3 linked regions of the Homo sapiens genome follow. The protein of the gene in region 3 purifies or fractionates together with the protein of the main gene of each other region. This does not show direct contact. Each region holds a gene or a part of one and is shown on either strand. Other genes may lie near its edges.

The links.
Region 1: the proteins of FRS2 (region 3) and FGFR2 purify together in Homo sapiens (affinity purification with western blotting; 2 studies listed by BioGRID). This does not show direct contact.
Region 2: the proteins of FRS2 (region 3) and SOS1 purify together in Homo sapiens (affinity purification with western blotting; 5 studies listed by BioGRID). This does not show direct contact.

What each region holds. Positions count from the first base shown.
Region 1 is NC_000010.11:121,595,444-121,603,457, forward strand, and holds the start of FGFR2 (fibroblast growth factor receptor 2 isoform 1 precursor), read right to left. Parts: upstream 3,002-8,014; 5' UTR 2,519-3,001; intron 1,203-2,518; exon of another isoform or gene 1,034-1,202; intron 1-1,033. UniProt on the Homo sapiens protein: Tyrosine-protein kinase that acts as a cell-surface receptor for fibroblast growth factors and plays an essential role in the regulation of cell proliferation, differentiation, migration and apoptosis, and in the regulation of embryonic development.
Region 2 is NC_000002.12:39,020,051-39,027,074, reverse strand, and holds part of SOS1 (son of sevenless homolog 1), read left to right. Parts: intron 1-2,937; coding exon 2,938-3,065; intron 3,066-3,849; coding exon 3,850-4,505; intron 4,506-7,024.
Region 3 is NC_000012.12:69,564,373-69,571,396, reverse strand, and holds part of FRS2 (fibroblast growth factor receptor substrate 2), read right to left. Parts: exon of another isoform or gene 4,757-7,024; intron 2,393-4,756; 5' UTR 2,367-2,392; coding exon 2,301-2,366; intron 1,067-2,300; coding exon 880-1,066; intron 122-879; coding exon 1-121. UniProt on the Homo sapiens protein: Adapter protein that links activated FGR and NGF receptors to downstream signaling pathways.

The sequences.
Region 1 (8,014 bases), on a different chromosome or scaffold from region 3:
CACGGTGTGTGTGCGTGCATGGTGTGTGTGTATGCACGGTGTGTGTGTGTACATGGTGTGTGCGTGCACGGTGTGTGCATGTGCTTTCAGATAGCTTGAAAGATTTTTCCTCTTAACTTTTCTTTCCTCTTAGTCAAGAGCCTCAGAAGATAATTTCGGATCTATTTCTACATACATGTGGGAGGAAAGTACACAAACATTCTCATTGATTTACTAAGCATTTGCAGAATGCAGGGGAATTTTCTACCTCTAACACGACTTCAGGAACAATCCTAAGTCCTCGCAGAGGTTTCACCCCAGGCTCCTTCCCCGGCCTGCTCGCCCACCTGTCCCTGCCCAGAGGAGCCTCCTTGGCTCCAGGCAGAGAAAGGTGGACAGGGCGCTCCGCTGAATCTCAAGCCGTTCCATCATCCCGCTAGCTGGCACTAGAAATTTGCATTTCAGCCATTTCCAGGTCCAAACCCCACGGCAGCCCCCTCCCCAAAACTCTGGAAGGCGGAGACCTAAGGCGACAGGTCTGCACAGTTCCTCACACCAGTGGACAAAAGTATGGTGCGACCTCCTAGGCAGGATAATTAGGTCCCCAGGCTCGGTGTTGGGAATACAGGCCCAGCATGCCGCTGGCGGCCACAATCCCGGCTTCCTGCCTTCAATACCATAATCCTTCCTGGAGTCTGAGCCCCAGTGAAAGCCCCAGCGTGTTTATTTTTCCCCTTGAAAGGGAACTCTCTTCTCAGCCTGCACGCGGGAGGAGTTGTCACCCTCCCTCTGATGGATGGCTCTTCTCGGCCGCCCGCCCCCCGGTCCATTTTCACCTCGGCACAAGCCTGCCCCCAAAGACAGGCAGAGTGACAAGCAGGAAGGGCTTGGCTGCGGAGCGGTCCCCATGCCAGGCCTGTGCTGGGCTCTTCAATTTACCATGACATTCCCAAAACCCCCGCCCTCCAAGAAGGCAGACCAATACAGTGCCCTCCGCTTTGGGCTTCCACCTAAGGGGTGATCTGTCCACTGCTGGCTCGGCCACTGGGATCACCTGGTGTTTTGTTCCTGGGTAGATTTCACATCAGGAAAGTCAACAGTGTCCGGCTCCTCCAAAGTGCAGACCCATCTCTTCGCTTAAGGCCTCCCTACTTCTCCCCAGCACTGAGTAGGAGCGGGAGCTGTCAAGGGGTCAAGGCTAGGGGGAAATTCCTCAACAAATTGAAATCTCAAAAAACACACACTGACCCAGGACCACAAAGCCCTCCCGGTTTAATGCTTGCGTCCAATCAGAACTTGCGAGCAGCTTGGGGGTGCTCCCCACCACCACCCCCTTTCAGGGCAGCACTTCTTTCATTTGTTTGCCTGAAATATCCTGTTTTTCTCCCCCTTCTCGGGGCGCTAAAGAGCTCAGAGAAATCTGCATTTTAATTGACATTCCAGGGAAAGAGAGAGGGGCGCCTGATTGCTTTTCTATTCAAACTAAACAGGCTTTTCAGATGAAAATGAGTCGAGCCCGGTGGAAGATTTACAGGGATTTGGGACCAGGGAGACAATGGAGTTTTAAATGTTGATAGCGTTTCACACCAAACACATAATGGGTGCCCTGAGTTTGAAAGCAGGTTTGCCTTTAAGGGTAGGTTTTATTGAATTGGGAGAAAGGAAGGAGGGTCTGGAGAACGGTCTGCAAGGGAGCGGGGTGCGAGGAGAGCGACGGAGGCTGGTGGTCCCCGAGCGGGCCTCCTGCGCCAGGTCCGTGGTCCGCGAGGGTCGGAGCCAGCGCCACGCAGGGCCCTCGGCTTTTTTCCCCAGCGCGGCCCCGTGGCCGAAAAAAATGAGCGCGCAAGTTAGAACTCGCCTGCGCTTTCGACATCTCCCAGCCGCTGCGGCAGAGCAGGCAGGCGAACTAGAAAAAGTCGGTCCAGTTCGCCCCCTAGCCCCAGGCGCACTGCGCTCCCTCCAGCGCCGACGGCGGCTGCGGGCGAGGGGCGCCCAGGCACCGGAGCCGTCGCCTCCCCAGCAGTGCCACCCCTGGCCATCGCCACCCCTACGGGATGTCACCGGCCCCACCCCAGCGGCCCCCTCCCGAAAAAGGGGTCTCCGCAGGGCCTGGATGGTACGGAAGTTCCCAGGACACACGGATGGGGCACCTCGGAGATGACCCCGGGAACCGGCCTGCGGGGCTGTGCCACGGGCAGGCGAACCTTCCGCCCGTCTGCTCTGGGGTCGGAGAAACGCGCCCAGTCAGCGGGAATGCGCCCGCCAGGGTTTGACAGGGAGGGGGGCGTCAACGCCAGAAGCAGATGTCAGCATCTGGATGGGGGTAGCAGAGGCAGAACTTCCAGAACGCCGGCCGTCAGCACGCACCCACCTCCCCCATCACCTATGCAGCCACAGAGGGAGGACACGGAGCGTCCTCCACAATGCTAGTCCTTCCGCGCCCCCCGCCCGGAGGACGGTGCACCCGGCGTCCCGGGCTCCCGTGGCGCCCACGTCCCCGGCTGGCGAAGCTCCCCGAGGCGTCTTGCGCGGCGATTACCTTGAATGGCAACGCTCCTCCGCGACCTGTGTTGTCCCCGCGCCCCGCGTGGGTCGGGATGGAGAAAGCGACGAGCCCGGGGTTGCGGGGAGCAACTCCAAACGCAGAAGAGTGGTCCTTGGGTCTTCGCCGGCGCCAAGCCTCCCGGGCTTCACGCGTACCCCAGGCTGCGGAGGAGCGCGGGCATGACGCCCGCGGGCTGCCCTCGGATTTGGGGAACGAGAGGAAGAAAGGACTCAGGCTTGGCGTTGCCTCCACCAAACTTTGCTCGCGAGTTGCGAAGGCTCAGAGCGCGCAGGCAAGCTGCGGCCTCGGGGCCCCCGGGGCTCGCGGCCGGCCCCCGCCAGCCCGGAGAGCAGTCGCCGCGCCGGGCCAGGTACGCCGCATGCAGCCCCGCGGCGCCCGAGCTTTGTGGCGGCCGCGCGCGCTCCCTCGCCCGCTCCGCACCCGCCGCCCGCCCGCTCGGCTCTCCACCGCGCTCTCCTCCAGCCGCCGCCCGCGCCGCCGCCGCCGCCCCCGCCTCCTCGCGGCGGGTCACGCCCCCACTGAAACCCGAGCCGTTTCCTGGACGGCGGCGCCCTCTCTGCCAATCAGCGCCGCGCGCCCGGGCCGCCCCGAGTCCCGCGCGGCTCCCGACGCCTCCGAGCAGCCGGAGACACCGGCCCGGGAGGCGAGGGCTCGGCCGCGATGCGGCCGTAGGGATGCAGCGACAGCCTCCGAATAAGGCCTGGTCCCGCGCCCCGCGCCACCTCCTCCCTCCTCCCCGGGCGAGCGAGGCTGGCCAACGGCTCGCTGAGCGACTGCGTTACGTTGTTTTATGTCAAGTTAGAAAACAAATGACCGAAGGCTCTAACCCTGCCCTCCCGCTAAAGAGACTTTAAAATGCGCCTGCTTGATACTGCGGGGAGGGTTGCCAGGCAGCTGAAGCTTTTGGAGGAGAGGAAGCCACTTGGAAATGTTCGCAGGACATTGCATGTTTCTGTCCTTCTAAACAATAGAAATGAGAGGAAAAAACTGAATATTAATGGAGGCCCTACTATGGGAGGGTCACACTACATAGGTGATTCTATTTCATCTGCCCAACCACCCTGCAGAGTACTATTCCCAGTTTCTGATAAGGAAACAGGATCAGAGAGGTTAAGTAATTTGCCTAGGACCACACAGCTGGCTACTAGGACAGCCTGACTTTGAATGTGGCTCTCTCAGAAAAAGCCAAAATTGCATCAAAAAAAAAAAGTGTTTAATAATATATGTTTGGATTAATAAAAAGAAATTCAAAGGAGTCTAAAGACAACTCTACCATAAATAGACCTTGAACAAAGTAATTCCTCCCTCTGAATCTTAGATTAAAAATCATAAATGCAAAATCTGATTCTTCAACTGCACACCAAGCTGTAACTGGTTAAAGTTCCTATGTCCATTTACCTTTTCACTAAGCCGTGTCTTCGGAATAATTTATTTTAAATATGCTTTTTCTCCCTCCTTATTCATCCAGCTCCTGAGCAGCCGTGCTTAAGTTCAAGACCATATAGATTAAAACCTTAATTATTTTTCTTTAGAAAAGGTCACTAAACCCAGAAATGCTTTAGAATCCTTTTGAGGCCTGAAGATAGATGAAGCATTGAGAACAAACCTGACTTGGAAAACAGACTTTTCCTGGATTTAGAAACATATTTGCACCTGTGTCACTAACATTGCACCCTTCATAACATTTACAAAAATATTTTTCAAGGTGCTACATGATTAGAAAATCATTTTTATTCACAAATATAGCACAGAAAACGTTTATGCAAGTTATTTAAAAGCCACACAAGTAAGAAATCCATTTAACTGCCTCAGGCAAAAGGCTATAACATTGTATTTTGGAAATTTGATAGCAACAAAATAAAAACTGGTTCTTAAGCAAAATTATCCCTCTATATGCTTGGTGGGAGGGTATGTTTTTGGTCAAGTCCTCTAACCTGGATTAGCCCCAGAGCCTATACATTAACGGACACCTCAGCCCAGGTTGACACTTAGCCATTCACTCCCACACGGGTTGTTCTGATAGCAGTATGTTTTCAAGTTCTCAGAAAAGGGATGCAGCTGAACGTGTCTGCCTGCTCGCAGGTTGCCACTTACATCTTTATATTCCCCACCAATGGGAAACTCGAGTGTCTCAGGACAGTTCCTTTCCCATCCTACACCGCATCCATCAGCCATTGAAAATGCTGTTAACACATTCTCACATAAATTAATGGTGCAGGAAGCCGCTGTCCCTATCCCCCATTCATCAATAGCTTTATGCATGTTGAATGGAAAGGAAGCTTTCCGCTGAAAATGACAAATAAGAACACCTACTTTCATGTCCAGGCACAGTTTGCAGAATGTATTTTTTATAGAAATGAAAAGACACCAATCTATCAAAAGCTCCTTATTCCCTAAAGAGGGCTCATATATAAGGGACTGAAACCCACAAGACCACAACAGGAAACTCTTCAGTTTTGAGGAGGGGGGGGAAGTATGTTTAGAATTATTTTTAAAAAATCAATTATGTCCCCATATTTAGTCTTCAAGTGACCTCAGACCATCCAGGAAAACCTTCACACCACTGAGGCTTCTGAATGAGAAAATAATCTCTTTACAGTTTTTTCTTTTCTCTTCCCTCTTCAAGTGGCTGGAACCCCTTTCGTCAATGGCCTCCCATGAATGGTGTTGCTAATAAAGCCTATTAATGAGCTTCCACGGCGGAGTGTGAATAGGTAAATAAGCCCCAATCTGTTGAGGTTCTGGGGCAAGGGCAGAAAAGCCAGTAAGAACTAAAGGTGACAGTTTGAACTGAACTGCGAACGCCAGCACCAGGTTTCAGCTGAAAGAACCGCCAGACAAGGACACATTCACAGTTCCTCCACCCCCTACTGAGGTCTCTTTTCTTCGCAATTTTCCCCCCTTTACAAAATGTCTTGAGTAGTCACCCTTTTTTTTTTTCAAAAGCCCTCGAGACGCCCTTCTTTTTTCACTCTAGTAATGATACATCAATGGGAAGGAAGAAAAATGAGGACACCAGAACTCCGATGCCCCCAAAAGTTTCAAGAAACAAATTGTGCTGCTAGCCCGTTGGTGATGGGAAGAGAAAGGAGAAGGGGGTGGGAGCGCTCACTACCATGGGCCTCTCTCCTTTGAAGATTTGGAATTTTTCTTTTAATAATTTGTTTTGTAATGGGTGGCTGTTCCTTCACTCTATGGAAACGTTAGATGAAATAAAGGCTGCTGACATGAAGTGCTCATGAACCTTCCCGGGTGGATCTGAGCTCCCTGCAACACCAGGAATTTCATTCTCTAAGCTACATCTCAATAGTGCCCTCGGCATAAAAGAAGCACTCAAATGGAAGGATATAGAATAGTCGGAGGACTATGATAAGAGTATTTACTTCTGGGTAAGGGGAGGGGCTGGATGCTGTGACAGCTCCAGCCCATCTTCAGGGAGCTTGTGGCATTTAAGTGAAGCAAAATCATTGATCCCACTACTGAACAGCATCAATGATTTTAAACTTAGAACTGGGCCTGAATTCCAAAGCCAAGGCTTCCCCGGAGACAAAGTCCTTCTGGAAGTATAGCCTCACTTTGAGGCAAAGGGGAATGGCTTTCTTAAGGTGAGAGGCTGGATGCAGCTTTCTTTACTCAATAGCTTTGTGACCTGTGGCCGGGCGCAGTGGCTCACGCCTGTAATTCCAGCACTTTGGGAGGCCGAGGCAGGCGGATCACTTGAAGGCAGGAAGTCGAGACCAGGCTGACCAACATGGTGAAATGCCGTCTCCACTAAAAACACAAAAATTGGCCGCTTGTGGTGGCGCATGCCTGTAATCCCACATACTCTGGAAGCTAAGGCATGTGAATCGCTTGAACCCAGGAGGCTGAGGTTGCAGTGAGCTGAGATCGCCCCACTGCACTCCAGCCTGGGTGACAGAGCAAGATTCCCTCTCAAAAAACAACAAAAAAAGGCCTGGCATGGTGGCTCACACCTGTAATCCCAGCACTTTGGGAGGCCGAGGCAAGTGGATCACCTGAGGTCAGGAGTTCAAGACCAGCCTGACCAACATGGAGAAACCCCGTCTCTACTAAAAATACAAAATTAGCTGGGCATGGTCGTACATGCCTGTAATCTCAGCTACTCAGGAGGCTGAGCCGGGAGAATCACTTGAACCTAGGAGGCAGAGGTTGCGGTGAGCCGAGATCGTGCCATTGCACTCCCGCCTGGGTAACAAGAGAGAAACTCCGTCTCAAAAAAAACAAACAAACAAACAAACAAACGCTGTGTTACCTCAGGCCAGTTGCTTGAGTTATCTGAGTTTTCCATTTTCTCAGCTGTAAAATGGGGAAAATAATGGTTCTTATTTCCTGGATTTTTTTTTTCTTTTTTTTTTTTGAGACAGAGTTTCACTCTGTCACCCAGGCTGGAATGCAGTGGCACGATCTCGGCTCACTGCAGCCTCCACCCTCAGGGTTCAAATGATTCTCCTTCCTCAGCCTCCTGAGTAGCTGGGACTACAGGTGCCTGCCACCGCGCCCAGCTAATTTTTTGTATTTTTAGTAGAGATGGGGTTTCACCATCTTGGCCAAGCTGGTCTTGAACTGCTGACCTCGTGATCCACCCGCCTCGGCCTCCCAAAGTGCTGGGATTACAGGCGTGAGCCACCGCACCCGGCCTCTCCTAGATCTTTAATAGGATCACTAAGAGGATGAAATGAGTTAGGACGTGACAAGCACTTAGTTTTTCTTTGTTTTTGTTTTTTTATTTGTTCGGGTTTTTTTGGTTGTTTTGTTTTTGCCTTTGTTTTTGTTTTTGTTTTTTGGTTTTTTTTGAGATGGAGTCTTGCTCTGTCATCCAGAGTGCAGTAGCGTGATCTTGGCTCACTACAACCTCTGCCTCCTGGGTTCAAGTGATTCTCCTGCCTCAGCCTCCCAAGTAGCTGGGACTACAAGCGCCTGCCACCACGCCCGGCTAATTTTTTTATATTTTTAGTAGAGATGGCATTTCACCAAGTGATCCACCTGCCTCCCAAAGTGCTGGGATTACAGGCGTGAGCCACCGCACCCGGCACTTAATTGTTTTTGTTTTGGTTTGGTTCGGTTTTTTGAGACAGGATCTTTCTCTGTCACCCAGACTGGAGGGCAGTGGCACAATCACAGCTCACTGCAGCCTCCAACTCCTGAGCTCACGCAAGCTTCCCACCTCAGCCTCCTGAGTAGCTGGGACTATAGGCATGCACCACCATGCCCAGCTAATTTTTGTATTTTTTGTAGAGACAGGGGTCTCATTATGTTGCCCAGGCTGGTCTCAAACTCCTGGCCTCAAGTGATCCTCCCTCCTTAGCCTCCCAAAGCACTGAGATTACAGGCGTGAGCCACCATGCCCAGCCTCGCTTAGACATTTTTATTCAGGTGGTCCTCATGGTTTGGAGAAACTTTGACACACGAGCAAGTCTCTTGAGGATTACTATCCATACACAGTAGTCC
Region 2 (7,024 bases), on a different chromosome or scaffold from region 3:
AAAATTGCCTTGTATCTTACTGACTTGAATTTCTCTGGGCTTTGCTTTTGAGTGATTAAATTCTCAATCAACTCAGTGAACTAATTCATCGTTCAGTGGTGCTTTCATTAAATTTGCCTTAAGGTATACAGCAAGCTTGTCTAACCCCCGGCCCAACACAAATTTGTAAACTTTCTTAAAACATTATGAGATTTTTTTGCAATTTTTAAAAAGCTCATCAGCTCTCGTTAGTGTTAGTATATTTTATGTGTGGCCCAAGATAATAATTCTTCCAGTTTGGCCCAGGGAAGCCAAAATATTGGATACCCCTGGTATATAGCTTTCAATGTTAGATTATCTGCTGCTTTAAAGACTAAACTTGATAATGTTTAATGGTAACATTTTATTTGTCTCCCAGAATTCTGCCATGTGAGAGGCAAATAGTTTCAAATGATAGGGATGGAAGGTACTTTGAGAGATTACCTGGATTCCAGCCTTCAGCCTACTAGTAATATCTGTTAAGTAAAAACCTAGTATCTTTCTTTATGAACCCTGGCCATTGGCTTTCTTTAATCTAGCTGGCCATATTGAAGAACAATATTATGAATAAAAGATATTTGATTTTTGTATTAATATGTACACTTTTAAAGTCTCTTATCCTTTGGAAAATATCTTTCGTTACCCTTTTTATGTTGAGAATTGTTAGGAATAAATTTTTCTGTTTTTTTTTTTTTTTTTTTTGAGACGGAGTCTCACTCTGTTGCCCAGGCTGGAGTGCAGTGGCACGATCACGGCTCACTGCAACCTCTGACCCCTGAGTTCAGGCGATTCTTCTGCCTCAGCCTCCCGAGTAGCTGGGACTACAGGCGTGTGCCACCACACCCAGCTAATTTTTGTATTTTTAGTAGAGACGGGGTTTTACCATATTGGCCAGGCTGGTCTCAAACTCCTGACCTCGTGATCCCCCCGCCTCAGCCTCCCAAAGTGCTGGGATTACAGGCATGAACCACCGTGCCCAGCCTAAATTTTTCTTTTACTTAACACAGTTAAGACTGAAAATTTTCCTAAAAATGTAGATTATGCCTCTAGTAGAAAGTATGGTGAGTTTTTAATAATGAATATAAGAAATCTGGATAATAAAAGCTAAGTATTAAACATTACAATATGGTATTCATTACTTCTAGAATATTTGACCATTAAAGTATTTTAAGTAAATTTTAATAAAAATGGTTTAGAATATAAGTAAGAAATCTGTTTACTTTTCACAGGTCATCAGTGCATGTGGTATGTGCATGCGCATGCATGTAACTGATTTTTATCAATTGAAGCAGAAAGGAATGTGTTGTTGACCTTTAAGGAATACCTGTGAAAAACACAAAATCCTTAAAGTACTAATGTACTAATGAATACTTAAGCTAATTGAAAAGTAAACTTCTAGCCAGGCATGGTGGCTTACGCCTGTAATCCCAGCACTTTGGGAGGCCGAAGCAGGCAGATCACTTGAGGTCAGGAGTTTGAGACCAGCCTGGCTAACATGGTGAAAACTTGTCTCTACTAGAAGTAAAAAAAAAAAAAAAAATCAGTCAGGTGTGGTGACAGACACCCGTAATCGCAGCTACTCGGGAGGCTGAGGCAGGAGAACTACTTGAAGCTGGGAGGCAGAGGTTGCAGTGAGCTGAGATTGCACCGCTGCACCCTAGCCTGGGGTACAGAGCAAGACTCCATCTAAAAAAAAAAAAGAAAAATAAACTTCTTTATAAATCACTTTGAATATTTCATGATTGTGTATCTCAAGTCTTTTCATTCATGGTAGAGAGTAGGTATTCCTAAATTGTTGGATGAAAACTCTATTGATAAAATGTTATTTTATTTTATTTTAATAGACGGTATCTCAAACTCGTAGGCTTAAGCGATCCTCCCACCTGGGCCTCCCAAAGTGCTGAGATTATAGGCATAGGCCATTGCAGCCAGCCAATATGTGATTTCTTAACTTTTCCTTTTGGTAACCAGGAACAGGTTTAAGATGTATGAGTGAATTATTGTGACTCATACATCTGTTAAGTGCTTGCTTGAATCATAGCCACCTTACTGTATTGACAATTAGTTACTGATGACTTAGTTCTTGTTAAGTAGAGACGTTCTGTCTGACACAGATATTTGCCAGTAATAGAAAATATGCTTGAGTTTCAGTTTCATAAATATGTATATTATAGCTTCACTCAAAATCTTAATGTGGATATGGACAAAGTTCTTTATTATACTAATGTTAATTCTGTAGTATAATTACAAAGAAAACCATTTACACTTACATTGTGTGTTACCATTTACAAAGTGCTTTGGTTTTTAATAACAACCCCTAAAAGTAGGCAGGGTAGGCTTTTTATAAGCCTTATTTGGCAAATGGGAAAAGTAAGACTCAGAGATCAAGTGACTTGCCCCAAGGTCACACAGAAGTAGAGTCAAAATTTGATCCTAGATTTTGTAATTGAGATTCCTTCTACTATATTGCATCGTTCTCTGTATATTTATCTTCCTTATCATCTCAATATTATATAACAATAATATAGGGGTCAGAAACCTAAGACCAAATTCCACACTTAAAAAAAAAAAAACCTCGTCTACATGCTTAGTGGTATGCTAACTCTATGATAATTCAGTAGATCGATTATGCTCCCCATTTCTTTTCAGTGGTATGCACCTTGAAAAACTACATATTACTGCCTGTCACAAGATATAACCCATCTTAACACTGCTAATCTTGGTCTTTTAATGTAGAAAACTTGGTTGTGTATTAATAGTAACACACAAGAAAAACACTTTTAAAAAGAATATTTGATGACACATTTAAAATTTTTATTGTGACAGTTGAATAAATGTTATTTTTATCCTTAAATGAGTTTATTATTATTTTATCCAAAAATGTACTACTGGTTCAGATTTGTCATTTTGGCTTTACAGCAGTTAGAAGAAAAAAGTGAAGATCAAGAAGACAAGGAATGTTTAAAACAAGCAATAACAGCTTTGCTTAATGTTCAGAGTGGTATGGAAAAAATATGTTCTAAAAGTCTTGCAAAACGAAGACTGAGGTGAATATTTTTACTTTTTAAAATATCCTTTTTTCCCTGAATATTGTGGTGTAAATTCAGGGATCCCAGTTCCCTCCTCAAGTAAACAATGAAGAAAATAGTTTTAGTGACAAGCCTGGTCTTTTAGAGGAAGTGACATCAAAGCCAAGAGAATTGTTATTGTTTGAAAAACCTTTCATATTTGTGCATTTTCCTTGCATACTCCCAGACAAGACCTCCTGAGAGTCAACTGGTAAGCTGAAGGAGAGACAGAGTAAAATGTATCGGGTAGATTTATGTTGGCATCGTTATTCTGTCAAAGTAAAATTATTAGTGTCCTTTATTTTAGGGATTATATAACTTGAGGCATTAATTCAGATAACATTGCTTCCACTTTCCTGATTATAATATGTGCTACATGTTTTTAGCTTTGGGTCTTGTCCATTTAAACTCTTCTAAATAATTTATTTTAATCTTTCAGATTACTTTTTTTTACTGTATTGGGCTACTTTTTATTAGTTGTCATTCTAAATATTTAGTAGCCAAGATAGAAATAATCATTTTGTAGTTACATTTAAGGAGAATTTTGTCAGCAATCATTGTGCTTTTTAGAACACTGAAAAAAATTTCTAGGTTGCTTTAATTTTCAAAATTGTGTAATTTTGTAATTCTAATCTATTTGGGGAATTAGTGAATACCTTCTCAGTGAGACTTGTAAAAATCTACTTTTACACTTTCCCTTACTTACATGAGCTCTAGGTTTTCTGTCATCTATGTACTAATAATGTCTTTTTCTTTATTCCAGTGAATCTGCATGTCGGTTTTATAGTCAGCAAATGAAGGGGAAACAACTAGCAATCAAGAAGATGAACGAGATTCAGAAGAATATTGATGGTTGGGAGGGAAAAGACATTGGACAGTGTTGTAATGAATTTATAATGGAAGGAACTCTTACACGTGTAGGAGCCAAACATGAGAGACACATATTTCTCTTTGATGGCTTAATGATTTGCTGTAAATCAAATCATGGGCAGCCAAGACTTCCTGGTGCTAGCAATGCAGAATATCGTCTTAAAGAAAAGTTTTTTATGCGAAAGGTACAAATTAATGATAAAGATGACACCAATGAATACAAGCATGCTTTTGAAATAATTTTAAAAGATGAAAATAGTGTTATATTTTCTGCCAAGTCAGCTGAAGAGAAAAACAATTGGATGGCAGCATTGATATCTTTACAGTACCGGAGTACACTGGAAAGGATGCTTGATGTAACAATGCTACAGGAAGAGAAAGAGGAGCAGATGAGGCTGCCTAGTGCTGATGTTTATAGATTTGCAGAGCCTGACTCTGAAGAGAATATTATATTTGAAGAGAACATGCAGCCCAAGGCTGGAATTCCAATTATCAAAGCAGGAACTGTTATTAAACTTATAGAGAGGCTTACGTACCATATGTACGCAGGTAAGAATTATGCAGTTGCCTGTCACTTTTGTTTTCCTGCTTCAAACTGATTTTCTTTCCTGCATGGGTTTATTGTGCCTAAAATAGAAAAGAAACTAACAACCAAAGACCTCTTTTCTTTGACTAAAAATACCCCACTTTATATTTCTTTGGAATGTTTTACTTTTTCTACTACACTTAAATACTTTTTTTTAACCTTACCATCAGTTATAGATGAGAAAATGAGGTCACTTGGCTAAATTTATCCAGTTAGAAAGTGACAGAAACAAGACTAAAGTTAGTAGTAAATCATCATTATTGGGATCTAAAAAGTTTTTTACTCCTTTATCTTTTTTTTCTTTCTTCTTTTTCCATTTCTGAGATTATAAATAAAAATTTTAATATAACAAAATTGTGCTGGTAGTACAAATATACACGGCATTGCTTTCTCTCAGTTTCCACTCCTAAACCTGATTATTTAATAATAAATGTTGCAATCCTGGAAGCCAAGGATTCCAGTTTTATTATAATTTTTCACCTAGAAATGTCTATAGTCAGTGTATTTATTTTACTGACCCAAAAATTTAAAAAATCATAGGAAATGTAAATAGGCTGCCTAGATTTTACATGAAAAACAAATAGGTTATTGTCATTTTTTTCCATATAAAGCTGTTTTTTGAGAGGTACAATTTTTCGGTAGTATGACCTGCCGATTTAGTTGTGCTTCACCAACCTTTTCTATGTTCTTTATGATCTAGACTACAACTATAAAAATGTTTTTTATTCAGTTACCCAAAATTTGTGATTGCAAAATACTTCTTTTCTGCTTAAGAGATTTTTAAGGCTATAAAAGTTCAAATTGCCCTTCTTGCCACATTTTCCTGGTTTTTAAGTCCCCTTAGAGGACTCATAGAATTTTTATAACATGAGCATTCTAAACTTTATCATTTCATCCTAAGTACTTTTGTTTGGGGTTCCTAGACTCATTTGGAGTAAAATTAATCTTTAGATTTTTCTCTGTGTTTGTAAGAAAGAAGTTTTAATTTTTTTTTTTTTTTTTTTTTTCCTGTAGAGCATTGTAAGAAGACTTACTACTAGTGTTTACTGTCACAAGTCAGTGATACTTGGGCAGGAAAACATTTTCAAATTACAAAATTTTTAATTGTTTCTGTAAGACTTGATTGAGTGATAGAAGTTTTCTCTAAATTGCTATATTTCACAAAGTTAATTTATGATTATTAATAAGCAGCTGAAGAATGGTTACAACTATTGTCTGGGGAACTGTCCCTTTTATTTATTTTTTTAAATGAGGACACTTTAAAGCAAAATTAACTGGAACAAGCTGATACTTGTTTTGTAGTCCTGAAAGTCTTCTTTCCTTAATGTGTACAATGTTAGGTAAAGTCCGTGGACATGGTACTTTTGTAATGATGTTTTATTAGTTATTTCTGTCTGATACTTCTTTTCTATATCAATTTTTAGCTTTGGTATAGAGTAATATTTTGAGTGCTTTTACTTATAATGAATATAAAACACTTAAATTTCAAGATTTATAGAACTTTGCCAAAGTTAAGTGTATTGAAAATTTAAGTTGATGAGATTATTTTACTTAAAAAAAATGTTTTTAAAAAATTCCTTCCAATAATTTTTTGAGAAATAAAAGGCCAGTGTTGTGGCTAAGTTTTTTGATATTTTTCTTTTCTGTCTTCTTTTGAAGCTTAACTGAATATTTTAATTTATGTCATAAATATATTACTGGTGAAACTGGAGTCTACAAGCAGCTTTCGTGAGTTGTGGTTTACAGTACACACACATTAGTGTTAACTGTTAGCTTATTTGGGCTATTCTGTAAGGTCTGTTACTGAAGTTATTACTGGCAACATAGAATGGTTTTTAATAGACCATCTGTGAACTTGTAAAACTGAAATGGACTTTTAAGGCCTCACTACAATGGTAACAGATCAAGTTACCATTTGTTTTTAAGAACTACTGGTCTGCTCTTCTCCTCTCATCTTTCTTCAGCCTCCCCAAAGAGAAAAGGGATTTGTGATTTGGTTAGTAGGTATGTTTATTGGAGAACATGCAGTACAGGTTGTGGCTTACACTGAAACAAAGCTAACATTTAACTTACACATTTTTATTTTATTATATAGAATTGTAATAAAAGACATTGGATATAATACATGAGAAAATTTAATGAATACTATAAGACACGACTTACAGACATCTTTTAGATTATTATAGTTTGGTTAGACATTGTCATAAAAACAGAAGAGAAACTGGTTTAACCTTACTTTATTCAGACTTCACTGTGGTGTCAGCCAACTTTATCCCTCAAATATTTTAACAGTAATGTACAAAATGGAGCTATAGATCTCTAATGCTAGAAGAGATGCCCAAGCCTTCACTTTGTAGACAAATCCCAAGGCCCCTGAAGATTATATGATTTCCCAGAAGTTCTATTACGAGTTAATTCCAGAACAAGTCAAGAATTAGGTTTCTTGACTCTAAATAGAGTATATTTTCTACCATGTTACATT
Region 3 (7,024 bases):
GTCTGATGATTATTTCTTTCTACAACTGGCTCTTCCACCACATTTATACTATTATTTTGCATAATCTCTTGCAACATGTTAAATAATTCTTCTGCACGGGCACACTTAAAGGCAAAGATTCCTACAAATATAAACCAAAAGGGAAAAATAGTTAACATACCTTTAAAAAAAACTATAGGAACACTTGACAAACAGCAGAATTGTAAAGTAAGCATTCTACGCACCGAGTCAGAAATCCCTTTTAAATAAATATCTGATAAATTAATGATTATTCTCTGTTTCAAAACAAACCCCCGCCAAAAGTTCACAGAATAATTTTCATTCATCTAAGGGAGATGGCCCAAAATAAAGCTAATGAAATCAAGACCTGCGCACTTACGCTAGTCTGTTTCTTAACAGCAGGGGGAGCCCAACTCACTATTCCAAGGTGATCATTTGCCATGTAACAGGCCCCTTGGAAAGTCCCTAGGTGTTTTCCAATTGTTATCTTGTTTAATTATTACAATAATTAAAAGATAGGTATTACCATTTCCCTTTTATAGAGAAGAAATTTAACATTCAATGGAAGTCCTGTAACTTGTCAAGGCCATTCAAGTAGTAGGTAGTAAAAAAATCAATGATAAAGACACTTAGTCAATTTAGCTGACCCAATCATTTACTGAAAAATCTTAAAGTTGACATGAGCCAAAATTTCTCACATAGACAATGTGCTTAATAAACAGTTGATAAATTAATACACAGTATACTATATCTTTCCTTAACAATCTGTTTATTTTGGGATTTTTTTCAGAAGAAAAATATTAATTTAATCTTTGTATACAGAATAGCTGAAAAAACAATTTCAAATACAATATTTGGGAAAAAAAACAAAGGTTCTACCTTGTCCAGTTTGACACCTTCGACCACTTTCAAAAGAAAAGAGATTCGAGTCATAGCCATAGCGTCGCAGGCAGAGGTAGTGCCATTTTACTGAGTCACGTTTGCGGGTGTATAAAATCAGTTCTGTGTCTGTAAGTTCCATTATGCCAGAACCTAACTCATTCCCATCATCATCCACATTAATGACCTAAAAAAAGAAGGTGACAGTCATGCAAATATGTCACCAATTCGTCAGGAAAATGCATTGTTGCTAATTAGTTATTTGTAATTTGTTAGTTCATTCATCAACCAATGTGTGTATCAGGCATGGACTACGTAGCCGTGTAACACCCAGTTCAGATCTGTAAGAAATTTACATTCCCACTGGGGAAACAAAATGTAGAAACACAAAGTCAATACCACAAAAGTGTATGATTAATTGACAAAGGAATGCAACAGAGGCTGCAGAAGGCAGGAAGTGTGGTCTAAGGTTGTTGAGACACCTTCATTTAAGAGGAGGAGGGCCTTTAGCTGGACCGCTAGTATAAATAAATTTACGCAGAAAATAAAATCAGAGGGGAAATCTAGTGGGTCAGGAGATAAAGGGACATCATAAAGACACAATGTTAAAGCAGAACAAAAAAAGTACCTTTCAAAGACACCAAAATAGATTGGCACAGAGTTCATATGAGGAAAGGCTTTGTACTGCTGAGCTTCAGAAAACATCCAAAGACTAAGAGCAGTAGGTAACATTTAGGGAGAAGTTACTATTCCCCTGGGAGTAGGAAAAGAGCTTTACATGTATTTAACCCTCATAACAATCCTAGACTACACTGTACAAAAATGGAATTAAGACTCAGTAATAACGTAACCTGCCCAAGGTCACAAAGCTTATAAAGTGACAGACTTACACCTAGGTTTGTGTGATCAAGGCTATTCTTTGTAACAGATCGAGGTCAAATTATCAGACACAAAACAGCTATAGCAGCATTTAGCCTACAGGTAAAATAACACCACACAATTTTAGCAAAGAGGTTAGTGAATGATGAGAGAAGAAGATTAATTTGATGGTGACTACAGGATGAATCAGAGGGTGACTTGAGGTAGAGTCCAGTTAAGAAATCACACAGGCACACATGAAAATAATAACTGAAAGACAGATAGTGATGAGATTGAAAAGGCACCCCGTAAAATGGCATTTTAAAAACAGTATTACCAGAACGGTATGGCTAATTAGATACAGAGGACCGAAGGAAAACTAAAAAAAATTCCATACTGTAAGAAAATGTTGTCATCATTTATTAAATCAAGAAAGACAGGGTGGAAAGAAAGGGAAATAGAAAGGTTTGGTGATAAAAGCCAGAAATAAGATATGTTAAGTGAAATAAAAGAAGAACACCCAACTAGGCAGTAAGATATATAACTCAACCAGTTTTACTGACCTTAAACTTGTTCCGATGGTTATCTGGGACAGTGTCTTTATCTGGACAGCTACAACAGCTACCCATGGCTTCTTCAGAAGACCATGTGTGCACTACATGAAAAATAATTTGGAAAAATTTATTAGATGAAGGATACAAAAACTGTAAACAGAAAAAGACTTTAGAAATCATCTAACACAAACATTATTCTGATGCAGAAAATTAAGTCCAACAAGGTATATGGCTGCAGCTAGATTTTATACAACTAGCTAGTTGATTTTACTCAGTAATAATGAGAATAAATTTTGTGAGGCATTAATAATGTCAAACAAATCTCAAATTTCTAGTTAAATTTGCAAAGGTCACCTATTCTAAAATCATCTAAAAAAAAAACCAACTTAAGGTCTCATATATAATATTACCTAAATAATTAATTTTTGTTCAAGAGTTAATAATGAAATTAACCCTTTGTGGCTTATCAGGAATTTCATGTCCTTCTTTAAAGAGAGAGAGAGAGACAGAGAGGGACAGAGAGAGAGAGACAGAGAGAGAGAGAGAGAGACAGCCAGAGACACAGAGACAGGCAGGCAGGCAGGCAGGCAGGCAGACATTATGTTGCCCAAGGCTGGGCTCAAACTCCTGGGCTCAAGTGATCCTCCTGCCTCAGCCTCCTGAGTAGCTGGGACTACAGGACTACCAGACCTGGCTTGTTCTTTAAATAAAAAATCACCAAAGGGATGGTGAACTTCTGGCTTGGCAGGTATTTTGACTGTTGTTACTCATTGTAGTATCTTTTATGTCTCCACAAGACAAGAGTTCATTGGTAATTAAAACAAAATCAAATTTCGAATAGCGCATTGGTAAGAGAGAAAGACAACTCAAAATTAAGCAGTAAAGTAACACACAGAATACTGGCAAAACTGATATAGCATGTCTATTTAATACTCCTTTCCCATAGAAGGTTAGAGGTAAGTGGTTATATACCTGACATTGAGTGTTTAAGAACACTCCAACTGAGCAGACAAAGAAAACTCCAAAGCATCACTTACAAACAAGGGAAATAATCAGATAGAATATGACAATATATGAAAAAGGAGGAGGGAAGGAAGCACAGAAGCTACAAAACATTACAAACATAAATTTGATTGAAGCTTGTTGAAAATTATTCAGTGGCTCTCCACTATCTTCAGTTTAACAGTATAAACTCTTCAGTATGATAGATCCGATCAGATACAATGTAATCCCTGTCTAACAGATCCAGTCTAGACTCTCCCTGCTTTCTGTTTCAAGCCCTATTCTTAGTCCTGTCAGAATAAACAAGCTGCAGTTTCCCCAGAGCATCCTGGTCTCTCACATCCTTCCAAGCTGCTCCCTTTCTGCTTCTTTCCTTTCTCAAGATTCAACTCAAAGTGCAGTTCCTCTAGGATGCTTTCCCTGACTCCAAGCAACTAGGCAAGTTATACTATTATGTATGACCGTCATGCATATGCTAACCCAAAGCACCCTGGGCTTCCTAGTATCATAGCATCTATCACACTTTGTACTGAGTAGAAATTGTGGCAGGTATCTGTTTATCTGTCTTTTCTCCTCCATTGTGAGCCCCTTGTCAGCAAGGATGAACCTTACTCATTTTTACATTCCTAGTACCTAACACGATACCTAGCATACAGAAGGTGCTATAGGACCTGTGATTTAAATGGACTGTATTAAACAAATGTGAAGGATCCCTAGCAGGTATAAGTATTAAGAAAATGAAAAAGTGTACTAGCGTATAAACCAAGAGTGTATATGATAACATATAATAGTAAAGTTAATTAAGACTCATGATATTTGGTATTTTTGCTTTAACTAATATGCCAGCTAAGTATCATAGTACAAGGACACATAAGTCACCATCTTTGTCTTTGAAGAGCTGTGAGTATCAAGGGGGAGAGAGAGAAAGAGAGAGAGAGAGATGTAAATAGATAATGCACTGCGATAAACCTTATATTAGGATATGAGCAGAGTACTGTGGGCACATGAAAGGGAACAACTAACTTTCTGGGTTAGGCAGGACAGGAAGCACTAATTGAGCTGGGATTTAAAAGAAGAGCAGAAACAACATGCTAAGCAAAATAAAGAGAAATAAGCACCTGAGACAGACAAAAGTCATGAAGTGTCACACCACATTCAGGAGAAAGTGAGGCGTTCAGTATGACTGGACTACAGGGTAGACTGGAAGACAAATGGGGCCCAACCATAAAGCAGCCTGAACAAGCTAGGGACATGTTCCCTAGATTTGAGACTTGATCTTCCAGTTAACTCGAAGATAGCCTGCCTCTAGTGTTCCCACAATAGAATGGCATAACTCTATTGTGGCCTTTATCGTACTCTACTGCAATGTTTATCTTTCTGCACCATCCACTTTGCTGTGATCTCTTTAAAGACAGGAAATCTTGTCTTGTTCATTTTCCAGGGCACTAAGCATACCAACTTACATGGCACATATTCTTTTTTTTTTTAAATCCCCCAAGACGGAATTTCGCTCTTGTTGCTCAGGCTGGAGTGCTATGGCGTGATCTCGGCTCACTGCAATATCCGCCCCCCAGGTTCAAGAGATTCTCCTGCCTCAGACATGGCACATATTCTATAAACATTTAATTTTTTAAAAAATAGTAAATGTTTAATATTAATAAATTATAGGATGAGTAATATAAGAAATTTTAAGTAAAGGGATAATTGATAGAGACATTTTTTAAAAGTCTTCTTGAAAGTACATATTTGTTCTCCCCGACCTCCTTGTGAAATATGAAGAGCTAAAAGATTACTACAGTATGGCTTTTGCTTCAAAAGATGATGCTCCAAAGGAATGTTTTTAAACTTTTTTTTTTCTCAAAAGGAGCAGGAAAATCATCCTTCCACTTGGCATCTTCATAAGCTACCTGTTAAGGTAGAACCTCTCGTGCTGGCAGGGATATACAGTCATGAGCCACATAACAAATGTTTGGTTGGCAACAGACTACATATATGACAGTGGTTCCCTGAGATTACAAGGGAGCTGAAAAATTCCTGTCAGCTACTGACACTATAGCTATCACAGCATCACAGTGCAACACATTATTCATGTGTTTGAGATAATGCTGGTATAAAAAAAAACCTACTGCACTGCCAGTGTATAAAACTATAGCACATTCAATTATGTATAGTACGTAATACTTGATAATGATAAATGACTATGTAATTGGTTTATGTATTTACTATACTATGTATCTTACTATTATATCAGAGTATACTCCTTCTACTTATTAAAAAAAAAATTAACTGTAAAACAGCCTCAGGCAAGTCCTTCAGGAGGTATTCCAGAAGAAGGTGCAGTTTTCCTAGATGACAGCTCCATGTTATTGCCCCTGAAGACTTTCCAGTGGGACAACATGTAGGAGGAGAAGACCGTGATATGGATGATTTTCACCCTGTATAGGCCCATGCTAATGTGTGTGTTTGTGTCTTTGTCTTAGTTTTTAACAGAAGTTTTAAAGGTTAAAAAAAAATTAAAAATTTTAAAAACAGAAAAAAATCTTAAAGGATATAAAAAAATACTTCTGTACTGCTGTAGAATGTGTGTGTTTTAAGCTAAATATTATAAGAGAGTCAAAAAGTTTCAAAAAATTAAAAGGTTATAAAGTAAAAAAGTTATAGTAAGCTAATTTATTACTGAAGAAAAAATTATTTAAACAAACAGCGTAGCCTAAGAGTACAGTTTTATAAAGCCTACAGTAGTGTACGATAACATTCTAGGCCTTCACATTCACTCACCACCCACTAACCAACTCACCCAAGAGCAACTTCCAGTTCTGTAACCTCCATCCACGGCAAGTGCCTTATACAAGTGTACCATTTTTTCTCTTTTATAGTTTTCTTACTGTACCTTTTCTATGTTTAGAAATGCAGATACTTACCATTGTGTTACAACTGCCTATAGTATTCAGTACAGTGATGTTGCTCAGATTTGTTGAGTAGGAGCTATAGGCTATACCATATATCCTAGGTGTATAGTAGGCTATACCATTTAGGTTTGTGTAAGTACACTCTATGACGTTTGCGCAGTGACGAAACTGTCTAATGACACATTTCTCAGAAGGAATCTCCACCATTAAGTGATATATGAGTGGCAGTGCAACCTACTTGGGGACTCTATCCACACTGAATGTTTGAGTTCAATACAACAATAATTAATGAAATGCCTAATATGTGATATGAAAGCCTTGTATGCCATGCCAAAGAGAAAGGAATTTATCCTACACATGATGGAAAACCACTGATGTATTTTAAGTAGAAAAGTGAGACGGTCAGAAGTGCATTTTAAATAAACATATGTATGATAAATTTAAGTAGGAGTTTAGCTCAGAGGAAAGAAAATCAGTTTGAGATTATTAAAAAATGAAATATGATAAAAACCTAAAACAAGAGCAGCAATGGTAGGAATGAAGAAGAAAAGAATAAATTTAAGGAACATTTAAGAGGAAAAGTCAGTGGCACCAAAGAACTGACTTGACATAATGGAAAACAGAGGCAGTTTCCAGCATGGCAGACAAAGGGTGCCAGGGGTCTATTACCTGAGATACAAAAAACTGTAGTCTTCAAGAGGAAGTGATAATGATTTGTTCAGATATGTTAAACTGAGAGCCCAGGGAAATGTCCAAGTGCAATAGTTAAGTACATAAGTATGTGTTTGAGGGAGAAGGTAAAACATTAGAACACATGTCACA